2 linked regions of the Homo sapiens genome follow. Each later gene encodes a partner of the first gene's protein in a complex. Each region holds a gene or a part of one and is shown in the gene's direction. Other genes may lie near its edges. The genes, in order: SPTLC1 and SPTSSA.

Region 1 (5,055 bases):
ACTCACATACCACATACCATAAAATTCACCCTATTGAAGTATATCGTTAAGTGGCTTTTAGTATCATACATTCAGCAGGTTGTGCAACCATTACTATCTCATTCCAAAACTTTTTCATCACTCCAGAAAGAAACCCCTGTAGCCTATTACCTTGCTCTGGTGTTTGTGCTTTCTTTATTTTAGTAGAGATTGTTTTCATTTTTTCTTAATGTTGACAGATGGTTAATATATAGGAAAGCTGGGTAAAACTTTGTTAACGCCAGATTCTGCAGTGCCCAGTGGCACCATGCCCAGATGCCACATGTGGACATCGTTTTTGCTAATATCTGAAGTGCAGTGGTTTTTCTCTGACGCAGTTCTACTGGTGGTGGTGGTCATAAGTCCAGCCTGCAGGACTTTGCTCGCACCACTTCCTCATGTGCTAACTCTGCTTTGTCTAAATGGTAGTCACTAGCTAGCTATGGCTGTTTGAATTTAAACTAAGTGGAAATAAGAAAAGGTGCAACTGTGACCTCTCAGTAGCACCAGCCATATCTCCGTGTGCTCAGCAGGCACACAGGGCTCATGGCGACTGCTGGGCACTACACAACAGAGGTATTTGTCATTGCAGAAAGTTCTGTGGACAGTGCTGCCAAGGTGGTGGTGTAGTATTTTGGTGATATCTTCTAGCAATTATAATTGGAAAAGTGAATTAAAGCTACCGTTGCAGGATTTCAGCGTTCCCCCAGTTTAATTACCACCATGTCTGAAGTCCAGGTTGCAGATGTCTTCTTTTTCTTCCTACAGTGCATGAACAGAAGTATTGCATTAACTCAGGCGCGCTACTTGGAGAAAGAAGAGAAGTGTCTCCCTCCTCCCAGGTCAGTTGACGTTAAAATATGACCTTATTTTTTTCCCCTACTCTGAGCTCTATGAAATACGTTATCTTTTGAAAAATTTTGAAAGACTATCATAGGCTATGGAAGAATATCTGTCATTAAAATATAGTACATTACCTGTCTTCTGCTCTTAAACTAGAAGTTTCTAAAATTTTAACTGAAAAGCTCCCAAGGACTCACTGAGTACCCTCTCAGTTAACTCAGAGAAATGTCTGGGAGCCCAGCAATGAACTTGGGCAAACTGAGTTTCCATCAGCTCATATCTGCCACATCTGAAAGGTGGCACATGCCACACCAGGAGTTCCTGCCACAAGGACCGTCCTGCAGGGAAGATCGGCAGTGTGGGGTGGGGGTGGGCATGCGCCTCTGCTGCTCCTTCAGTCAGCAACACTCAGTAACATTTGAGAAAAAACAAGCAACAGTGGGGAAAATGTACAGCATCAAGAAAAAACACCAAAAGTGAAAGACTAATGTCTTACTTTTAAGGAGACTGGATTCTGTTCACAAAGCATATACGAGGTAGTCCAAGGAGTTGGCCATCCCACCACAGCACTGGGCCAGGCAGTCACAGCAGGGGGCATGGACATGGTCAGTTCTGCCCTGGGGCATTGCTCAGGCTTTTGAGAGCAGGCGATGTCTACACCAAAACTAGAGAAGTGTGTGTGTCGGGCATCCTGTGGGCATCGTGGCTTTCCATCAGATGAGGTGGTGTGTGCTTTGCTCAGGGTTTTCAGTGGCTTGGAGACCTCCAGGTTCATCTGGGAGTACAGAGTGCAAGCCGCAGAAGAGCTGGAGAGAAGGGTCCTGAGGCCAGGTGCCAAGTCAGGGAGGCTGCAGGAGAGCCCACTGGGGAGTTTGAATGCTCTGCCGGCCCACAGTGCCAGACCAGGATTTGGAAGATCACTCTGGTAGCAGCTCAAAGCACCTTAAGGAGCCTGCCCTTTTCAGCCAGGTGCAGTGGCCCACACCTGTAACCTCAACACCTGGGAGACCGAGGTGGGCAGATCACTTGAGCCCAGGAGTACAAGACCAGCCTGGGCAACATGGTGAAACCCCATCTCTGTAAAAATTAGCCAGGCATAGTGGTGCACGCCTGTGGTCCCAGCTACTTGGGAGGCTGAGGTGGGAAAATCACCTGGTTCCAGGAGGTCAAGGCTGCAGTGAGCTGAGATCACTCCATTGCACTCCAGCCTGGGCTGCCCCCTTCATTTTTTATTGCACTCATCCAAAGGTGTAATCCTACATCCTACGTTTACTTGTTAGTAAGACCGTAGGTGCATGAGGACGGGAGCCGTGCTGGTTTTGTGCCCTCAGGACTCCATGCACAGCATAGTACAGCTCAATAAATATGTGTCAAATGCATGAAACAGATGTTTACAGATGAACTCTGGGGGACAGAGGTAGCATTGTCCTTTCAAGCTATTATTTCTTTGATTTCCTGAAAACTTGAAAATTTCTGCCATGCCTTAGAGTATTACAGAGCTTTCACATTGCTATTGACATAAATACGAACAATCAAACTGTCGTTGATTTGAGAAGGATGGAATTCCTGCTTTGTGCCTGGCACTGCCTGAAGCAGTACATGATGGACAGGATGCTATTTCCCAGCTTCTGAGGCAGAGCCCACGGAAACTCACTCTGACTGGGTGTGCACTGGTGTGGTGTAGGCCGAGGCCTTCAGGCTGCAGATTCCCTGCCGCAGCAACCCACCTGCCACAGTAGTGAGAAAGTGACTGTGGGCAGCAGGTACATGAATAGACAGGCCTATTGGGAGGACTGCCAGGAGAGGTTTGTTTACAAAAATAGGCAGTGGATTTGGCTCTCAGGCCATATATGGTTGACTGTGAGTGCAGTTCCTCACCTCACATAGATAATTCTTTTTTCTGTTTGTTTGTTTTTGGTTTTTTTTTTTTTTTGAGACAGAGTCTCACTCTGTTGCCCAGGCTGGAGTGCAATGGCGCGATCTCGGCTCACTGCTAGCTCCGCCTCCCAGGTTCACGCCATTCTCCTGCCTCAGCCTCCCAAGTAGCTGGGACTACAGGCACCCGCCACCACACTGGCTAATTTTTTGGTATTTTTAGCAGAGATGGGGTTTCACTGTGTTAGCCAGGATGGTCTCGATCTCCTGACCTCGTGATCCACCTGCCTTGGCCTCCAAAGTGCTGGGATTACAGGCGTGAGCCACTGCGCCTGGCCCACAAAGATAATTCTTTGTGTCCTTTACTGTTCTCAGCATTCGGGTTGTGGTCACGGTGGAACAAACAGAGGAAGAACTGGAGAGAGCTGCGTCCACCATCAAGGAGGTAGCCCAGGCCGTCCTGCTCTAGGCAGAGTCCCGGGACCATGGCCTCCTGCCACACAACACGCAGAGAGGACTCAAGACTCCCGCTGGCCATGGAGTGGCCTGAAAGAGAGCAAGAACATGTGGATCTTTGATAGGATTGTTACCAAATGGTGTCAGTATGGACCAATTGTGTGACCATGAGAAGGATGCTTATTTTTTTTAAAAAGAAAACACATCTAAAAGCCCAGGAACTGATTTTTTTAAGAGGAAAACTAATGACAGTGTATAACTGATGTTTAAATTGTGCATTTAGTACTATTTAAATGTTTTCTTATACTAGTATTTTATATTCTTTTGTTGTCGTTTAAAACTGGAGCTTCAGTGTCTCTTCCCTCCCTCTAATAGTAATGGTTCAGTAAGCACTCCTTAACTCCTTAGTATTTCATAGAAAAATGACTGCAACATTAAAGCTAAGAGGAACACTTCAACATATGTGGTACAAATTTATATTGAAGATCTAAATAAACCACGTATTTTCCAGTCTTCGTTGTGTGAAGCTAAATGGTGGCTAAAAGGAACACTTTTTGTGTGATTATTATAAACTTTGCATTGTATTTGAATCTTAGAACTTTTGTACACACTAAATATTGATGTCACACCATTTCTAATCTGAGCATCCTTAGCCAGAGAATATTCATTATACTTCCTAAGTGAGCAATAATTTAAATCAGAAGCTATTTTATTTTAATGTAATTAACCTTTCTTTACATTTCTTATGTGTTCACCTCTAATCTGTTTTAGGAAGAGAGTTGGTTATTATGTTGATCCCATAATATAAATCATATCCTTTATATTTTAGAATATCTCAAATGTATTCCTTTTTTGTATGGTGGGTTTGCCTAGGGACGTGTAACTACAGGCTTTTACTAAGCCAAGGAAAAAGAGAATTTTTCTTTTCATCTTACAAATTCCAGATATCTACAAAAGATGTGAAAGCACTAAAAATACCATTTTTAAGCAGTACTTTACCTGTTTTTTCTTTAGCAAACCAGGTTATGTGGTGTAAAGGTTTGTTATACGTGCCACAATATAGCATATAAATATTATGCCATCATTCCTTCTCTTGTTAAAGGTAGAAGAATAAAATTGTGATTTTTATAACCTGTGCTTATTACTCAAATGGTCTTCAACATCTTTTTAAACAACACATACTTTTTGAATGTTCAGTTTCTATTTTGCTTGAGGTATTTTGTACATATGTGCCTTGTGATTGCTGCTGCTTTAAAGGATAAAGTACTCTTTGGGGGATGAGTCTGGTTTGTTTTGTTTTATTTTTTAATGAAATAAACCTATATTCCTGATTATTAGTCTATTTGCATATGTAATATATCCAACAGAATAGTCTCTTAATTTTAACTTTTTTGCACTGGGGTAGTATTCTTTGTTGTTTGGTCTTATTTTAGAAAATAACAATTAAATTTCTTAGTTCCTTTTTTCACATCCAACCAAAGAATATATAGTATCTGAAGTTTCCTAGGTTCTTGCTGACCTCATAGGACTACAAAAATATCATGGCCATTATTTTCATAAATAACTGTTCAGCTTCTTTTAGAATACTTTCTAAGTGAAAATAGCAACATCAAAATAATGTTTGTAATAAACTTTTTGAAAATATGATCAGGAGTTTCTGGGAAAGATGGCGGATCAGGCACATTATTTCAGTCCTTAAAACCAACATTGTAAACGAAAGGAACCAAAAGTAAAATTTTTGTGTTAAAATTATAGAGTGACCACAATCCAGTAATATACACCACGATGAAATGTCTACTAGAAACAGTAAAATTTGGATCAAACTGAAGCAAAATGCTGAGAAAGTACAGTCATCTCAAATCT
Region 2 (7,370 bases), on another chromosome or scaffold:
TTTTCCTCTCGACACTTAGTTCTGCCATCATCCTGGACAACTTTATCTTTCCTGTGGTCTTTACTATCCCCTCCACTCCACTTTAGCTGCCTATCCCATGGTCACAACCTGTGCCTGGTCATTGTCTAAGACTGGCCTATTTCTGTACTCCTAAGCTTCAGAAGCACAGCCGTGGCCCTCCTCCTCCAACATAGACTCTTTCCCATGCACCTACTCCTACAGTTTCCAACCTCACACAGCTCTGGACTACTCCATTTTATCTTTTCATCATTTACTTCCCTCCGTGACCTAATTCTCCTAGTCATTATTTCAATTATTCTCTCTCCATCAACCTTCTTGCTTGTTTCTCCATTGTATCCATCCAGCAAACCCTGCCTTGGAGGAAGTCTCCTAATTCAACTTCTCTAGTTCTATATATACTCGGTACTTGTGTATTGTTGGTAAAAACTGTATGGTTTTTCTGCCTGACAATCCTTAGGCAGCTTTAGGAAACTTCTCCCATCTCCCTTTTTCTTTTTCATACCCTCCACTCTTCAACATCTTGCTCACTCTCAACAAGAGGCCTTTATTTTTTCACTAAGAAAACTGATGTTGTAAGGTAGGGAGTTCCTTAACTTACTTGTCTGTGTTTATGTCCATCTGGCTCCCATCTTTCCATCCTCCTCCTCTTGGGGAAAGAGCTACCAGTTCCTGTTTATTAAGGCTTTGGATCTGGTCCCCCAGCCCACCATCTTTATCCATATCTTTACTCTAAGCCCATAAACTTGCTTACTCCTTTCCCATCTGAAAATGAAACCAAACTGAAACCCTTGCCACCATTCTATCTCCTTCCCTTCACAGGCAAGCTTCCTGCAAAACTAAGCCTGAATTAACTGTCCTCATTGTTTTACTTCCTGTTCTCTCCTCAGCCTTCTATAATCCGGCTTCTGTCCTATCATCATTCCACAATGAAATGCTGAGTCATCAATCTAGCCCCATGTGGACAAAACAAATTGGCGCTTCCCTTCCTTATTTTGCTTATCCTCCCTGAGCCATTTGTTCTGCTGGCTATCCCTTCCTCCATTAGCTTCTCCTGTATGTCTCTCCTCATTGCTGTCAAATCTCAGGTAGCTCCTTCCCTGTATTGGCTTCCTTTGGACTCTCATTGGCCAAATGCCAGAATCTCTGGGTTTATTCTGTACCCTGCTCTTCCCATTCTATGTGCTTTCCTTGGGTGACCTCATCTGCTCTTCTGGCTTCAATGACCAGGGACATATTGAAAATTCATATGCCTCTAGTTCCATTCAGGCTTCACTTCTGAGTTCCAAACCATGTGCTCAATTGTCCCCTGGACACCTCCATTTAAGTGTCCCTCAGGTACCTCAGACATAGCTTCATCCTAACAAAATCAATATCTTTTCAGCCAAACGTCTTCCTTCGGTTTCTTTGTATTGTCATCATCCAGGATCTCAGCCTCTTTTCCTCATTTCTAGTCAGTCACCAACTTTAGTGAGATGAGGTGGTAGAGCTGGTCTCCGAGAGACACGCAGTGGATTGGGAGCTACTAACAGTGAGGACAACCACCTGGCAGACATGGTGCTAGGGAGTGGACCCAGTAAAGGAAGGGTGGCTACGGGTGATGCTTCCAATCTTGGATGAATTTTATGTAGCATCACCAGATGCTGAGGGTAGTTGGAGTTCTCGAGGAAAAAGGAATGAGCTTGCCTGTGCCTGAACAGGAACAGGGACAGAAAGAAGTCCAAAACAGTTAAGTTTGAAAGTAGGAGGGCACGTGTACCTGCATCTCTGAGGGGTAAGGAGGTTTCAAGTATTTGTGGGTTCTACCTTTGTAATGTCTTCCCAACCTGTTTTTTCCCTCGGTAGCCTCCAGGCTACTACCCACACCCAAGTCTTGTTCCGAAAGCATTTTTTTTTTTTAAACGGAGTCTTGCTCTTGTTGCCCAGGCTGGAGTGCAATGGTGTGATCTCAGCTCACTACGACCTCCGCCTCCCGGGTTCAAGCGATTCTCCTGCCTCAGCCTCCCAAATAGTTGGGATTACAGGCACCCACCATCACGCCCGGCTAATTTTTTATATTTTTAGTAGAGACGGGGTTTCACCATGTTGGCCAGGCTGGTCTGGAACTCCTGACCTCATGTGATCCACCCGCCTTGGACTCCCAAAGTGCTGGGATTATAGGTGTGAGCCACCACACCCAGCCCTGAAAGAAAATCTTATTTAAGTTGTTGGCTCCAGTAACTTTTGGACATCAAGTTAAAAATTTCTTAGCTTCTCAAACAAGGTCCTTCAGAATATGGTCCCTGTTTGCTGTCTAGGCCCATCTCTTGCTACTGCATATACATTCTTTTTGCTCCAGCCACATGGAAGTTCTTCCAGTCTTCTAAAAACATCACAACTTCATCCTTAGAATGTCTGTCTCACCCTCTCTTCCCCAAGCTCATTCATTCTTCCATTTCTGCTTGTCCTTCAACACTCAGTTCAAGCACCATTTCTCAGAAGACTTTCACAAGCCCAATCTGATTTTGTCTGGGCTATCTTGGTATCCTAAAGGATACGATCCACAAAAATATCATTTACCACACCTCACTGTAATCCATTAACTTGCCTCTCTTCCCCAGCAGACTGGGTACTTTATGAAGGCAGGTCTCAGTCTATCTGGCTTGCTATCCCAATGTCTGGCACTTGATATTACTTACTGTTTTCTTTCTTTTCTTCTCTTCTCTTCTGTTTTCTCCTCTCTTTCTCTGTCTCCTTTCTTTCCTTTCTTTTGCTCTGCCACCTAAGATGGAGTGCAGTGGCACCATCCTGGCTCACTGCAACCTCGACCTCCCGTGCTCGAGCAATCCTCCCGCCTCAACCTCCTGAGTAGCTGGGACTACAGGTGCACGCCACCACCCCTGGCTAACTTTTTGTTATGTATTTACTTATTTTTTTTGGTAGAGACGGGGTTTCACCATGTTGCTCAGGCTGGTCTCGACCTTCTGGACTCAAGTGATCCGCCAGCCTCAGCCTCCCAAAGTGCTTGGATTACAGGCATGAGCTACGGCGCTTGGCCGGCACTTGGTACTTTTAATGAATAGTTATTAACCATGAAACTTTTAAAGTTTAAGCAGTAGTATGTTTAACCTGGAAGACTTTTAACATTTAAACAGCAGGCCATTTAATTGTGGCAGTTCACATGCTACACCAGTGCATGGAGCTCCTTGTGGCCAGTGCAATGTTGCTGGCCCATCTGGCAGTGGGAAAATCTGGGCATCCAGGAGTGCATCTCTAGGGAAGTATCACCAGCCCTCACACCAATCTCAAGCTGCCTGTCTTCTGCAGAACCCACTAGATCAGCGCGCTTCTGGCCTTGACCCACTTGGTGGTTACCTACAGCCACTAAGAGGTGGGCAGATAGATGTTTTTGGTAAGTGGTCTCTGGGTTAGGGAGTGCATGGGTTATGTCCGTCTAGGGGTGTGTGTGTGTGTGTGTGTGTGTGTGTGTGTGTGTGTGTGTGTGTGCATGGGTGGGGGAAGGGAGGAAGGAGGCCGAATGTGCATCCCTTCTACAAGGACGCCTTTCCAGACCTCCTTATTAGGTGGCGTTCGCCTCCTCACCCTCTCTCAGCCCCTTATCTCCTCTTACACGGATCACGACTTGATTAATGCTTGTCTCCCAGCTAGGCCGCCAGCTGCACAAGGTAAGGAACCGAAGGCATTCCGGTTCTCCCTGGCAATCCTCCTTCTCAGAAGGATGCCTGAGGCATAACAAGTGTTCCAGAAATATTTCTTCCGCAAGCGCTCTGGGCCAGTCTGGACGGACCGAGCGCCCGCTGGGCTGCGGGGGCCCCGGGACCCCGGCCGGCACTGACGCCCCGCCCACCACCGGCCGGCCCGGGCGGGGTGGGGCGCGGCTGGGCGCTCTCGCGGGGACCGTTCTCCGGCTAGCGTGGGCGATGCCCGGGCGGGGAAACGGGAGGGGACGACGCGACGCGAGGTAGCGGCCTGGCCAATGAGCGCGGGTCGGGCGGGGCTGGGGGCCGGCGGCCGGGGCGCGCGCGGGTCTGGGCGTGCCGCGGGTGACGGCGGGGCCGGGCGGGCCAATGGGCGCTGGGTGGCGGGCGGGCGGGCCTGGCGGCCGGGGGCTTTAGGACGTGAGCGGGCGGCCGGCCGGACAGACTGACGTGTGAGCTGCATCGCGGGAGGCGCATGGCGGGGATGGCGCTGGCGCGGGCCTGGAAGCAGATGTCCTGGTTCTACTACCAGTACCTGCTGGTCACGGCGCTCTACATGCTGGAGCCCTGGGAGCGGACGGTGTTCAGTATCCTGTCCCGGCCGCGCGCGCGGGGGCCGGGCTGGGGGCGCGGGCCGCGGGGCCGCATTTCCCCAGGCCCCGGGCCTGGGGTGGAGGCTGGAGCGGCGGCCCCGCCGGTCCTGTGCGCGGAAGCCGGGGGTGCAGGGGGAGGTCTGGGGGCCGAGGGCGGCGCTCGCGGGGTTAAGTGGGGGGTGGGGGAGACGAGAACTCTTGAGATCCGGGGTCACCTGTGAGTCGCTGGACCCAAGGGGGAAGCGTCTTGATTCCTGGAGGAAATCTCCGAAGGTGATGTGTAACCCTGTGTGTCGCCTGCACTTCGGCCGCAACTGCCTTTGGTTCAGTCCCCTGTTCCTGTAGGAGGCGGGGATCATGTAACAGTGGAGCACATCGCTCCCGGCTTGGACGCCTTTGACCTTTAAGTGTTCCTGATTTAGTTGGCTTTGGGTCTACCAAGAATTCTAGTCAGTTAACTAGCTTTTAAGCCAGGTTCTGAATTTGTAGGCATGACACTCCAGTAGTTTTTGAAAGCAGTTTAAGTTATTGTATCTTTTTGGTCTTCAAGTTGGGGAGTTTTAAAAGTGTATTTATTGCTTCTGTGCACCGTCCGTAGAAGTCGGCCCGAAAAGTGGTGCAATTTGTGGTTAGTTGTCGGTAGGGTTTGAAACTGTGTTTTGGTGGATAGTTAATAAATTCTTGTTAATGACTATTGAGTGGTTACTATAAGCAAAGCATTTGTGCAAAGCACGTTGTCTGTATCTTAACTCATCTAACTTTGAGAACTTCAGTTAATAACTCAGGGTTGTGAAGATAGGCTCCCTGAAAGTCTGATGTTTCTTGTCTCTGCTTGTCCATATTGACATCCTTTGATGATATTCTTGCAGATTAAATACTGATAATGAATGAGATGTAACTTTTAAAAAACTCAGGCCAATACAAAACAGGTATTTCACAAAACATGTTTAGTTTATCCACGTTCTCTCCTTTTCAGTGTGGTTTAGTTGGAGTAGCTTACTTCAGAATAACTTTGCGAATGCATTGTTGCATTCCAGTGAGTGACTGAGGTAATTTCATTCTAAGCCTTATCAAGTGTGTTTATTTGTTTTGAGATAGCTTAAGGTTGTACTCAAAGCTGAGTCTTTTGTTTAAGCACTTTTGAGGAATTTGAGATGCTTTCAAAGCAGTTTATTTATTTATTACTGTTGGCATTTCTTTCCAAACCTGGAATTTAAGAACCAGAATGCATATTTTGGATTTAGACTCTGAATATAGTTTGCTTTGATTTCCTGCACCATTTATTTGTAGCTGCAGTTTAGTCTCACTCTTTAGGGCTCGCAAGGTCATGCCTTGTAAAATATATACTTGAATGCATATTTAATAGAAGTCTCTCAGTAGAAGCAAGTATATCTTGACTGACATAACACATCCTAAAATTAATTTAAACAATGCTGGGTTAAAATGAAACTCTTTAAATCAGAGGTTGAATGTAGAGTGCACTATTAGAATCTAGTATAGATTTGACACCTAAAATCTAATATAGATTTTACACACTAAAATGCTACAGTTATCAATGATGTTAAGATTTTTCTGTTATGTTGCAATAGTGATAGTGTCCTATAAATAACTAGGTGATGCCTTTTTTGGGGGATGGAGAAATAAATTATGAAATGAAATATAGTGCCTTAGTAGATATTTGCCTTTAATGTTTTTGAGTTACCATGGTTTAGCGACAAGTAGTTTCAATTTTTTTTTCAAATAGGTGAGAACTGCAACCAACTGACATCCAATATTATAGAACCTTATGATTTTAAACTTAAGATAAAAAAATCTTATTTCAAATTTCACGTTATTGAATTAACTCAGGTTAGAAATGCAATTGTTTGACATAAGCCAGTCTTGAATTACTATCAGCTGTTGTATTTATATTTTTCCACTTCAACTTCTAGAATCATTTAAAACTATCTGATAGTTTGGAACATCAATTTGAGATTGAATCCTCATTTTAGCTTGGTGGAAAGAACTGAATGAGAAAACTGGATTTTTTTCCCTACTTGTCAGGAGGCTTACTCTGAAGTAGTTTGAATTTCATAAATCCATTAATGATTAGTAAGCTTCACCCAGAACTAATCTGTGGCCAGCTACAGGCTTTTGGAAAGAGGCATACTTTCTACAGCTTAAACATTACATTCAACTTAATCATCAATCCTAGAAACCTAAAATTTAGAGAAATTTGCCTCTGCCTGTCTGAAAATTTGTCTCTGAGTTAGAAGTCCTGAACAGAGGAAGACTTCAGATTGATTTCTTTTCTTTGTGTGTGTGTGTGTGAGACAGTGTTTTGTTCTTGTTGCCCGGCTGGAGTGTAATGTCGCCATCTTGGCTCACTGCAACCTCCGCCTCCCAGGTTCAAGCGATTCTCCTGCCTCAGCCTCCAGAATAGCCGGGATTACAGGTGCCTGCCACCACGCCTGGCTAATTTTTGTATTTTTAGTAGAGATGGGGTTTCGCCATGTTGGCCAGGCTGGTCTCGAACTCCTGACCTCAAGTGATCTGCCCACTGCAGCCTCCCAAAATGCTGGGATTACAGGCATGAGCTACCACGCCTGGCCAGATTAATTTTCTTCTTTTTCTTTTTCTTTTTTTTTTTTTGAGACGGTGTCTCGCTCTGTTGCCGAGGCTGGAGTGTGGTGGTGCAATCTTGGCTCACTGCAACTTTGCATCCCGGATTCAAGCGATTCTCCTGCCTCAGCCTTCTGAGGTAGCTGGGATTACAGGTGCCCACCACCACGCCCAGCTAATTTTTGTATTTTTAATAGAGGCGGAGTTGGGGGTGGGGTGGGGGTGGGGTGGTTTTACCATGTTGGCCAGTCTGGTCTCAAACTCCTGACCTCAAGTGATCCGCCTGCCTTGGCCTCCCAAAAGTGCTGGGATTACAGGTGTGAGCCACCGCGCCTGGCCCAGATTAATTTCTTAAAGAGGATAGATGCATTAGTTTACATTTCCTGCTATATAATGCATTTTTAAAAATTTGAAGTTGTGGGCCGAGTGTGGTGGTGGACGCCTGAAATCCCACTAGTCG

Evidence for each region.
Region 2: SPTLC1 (region 1) and SPTSSA share a complex: the UniProt entries of both Homo sapiens proteins name them as parts of the serine palmitoyltransferase (SPT) complex.

The regions. Positions count from the first base shown.
Region 1 is NC_000009.12:92,030,615-92,035,669, reverse strand, and holds the end of SPTLC1 (serine palmitoyltransferase 1), read left to right. Parts: intron 1-786; coding exon 787-860; intron 861-3,111; coding exon 3,112-3,205; coding exon of another isoform or gene 3,206-3,357; 3' UTR 3,358-4,523; downstream 4,524-5,055. UniProt on the Homo sapiens protein: Component of the serine palmitoyltransferase multisubunit enzyme (SPT) that catalyzes the initial and rate-limiting step in sphingolipid biosynthesis by condensing L-serine and activated acyl-CoA (most commonly palmitoyl-CoA) to form long-chain bases.
Region 2 is NC_000014.9:34,459,029-34,466,398, reverse strand, and holds the start of SPTSSA (serine palmitoyltransferase small subunit A), read left to right. Parts: upstream 1-4,158; 5' UTR 4,159-4,191; coding exon 4,192-4,303; intron 4,304-7,370. UniProt on the Homo sapiens protein: Component of the serine palmitoyltransferase multisubunit enzyme (SPT) that catalyzes the initial and rate-limiting step in sphingolipid biosynthesis by condensing L-serine and activated acyl-CoA (most commonly palmitoyl-CoA) to form long-chain bases.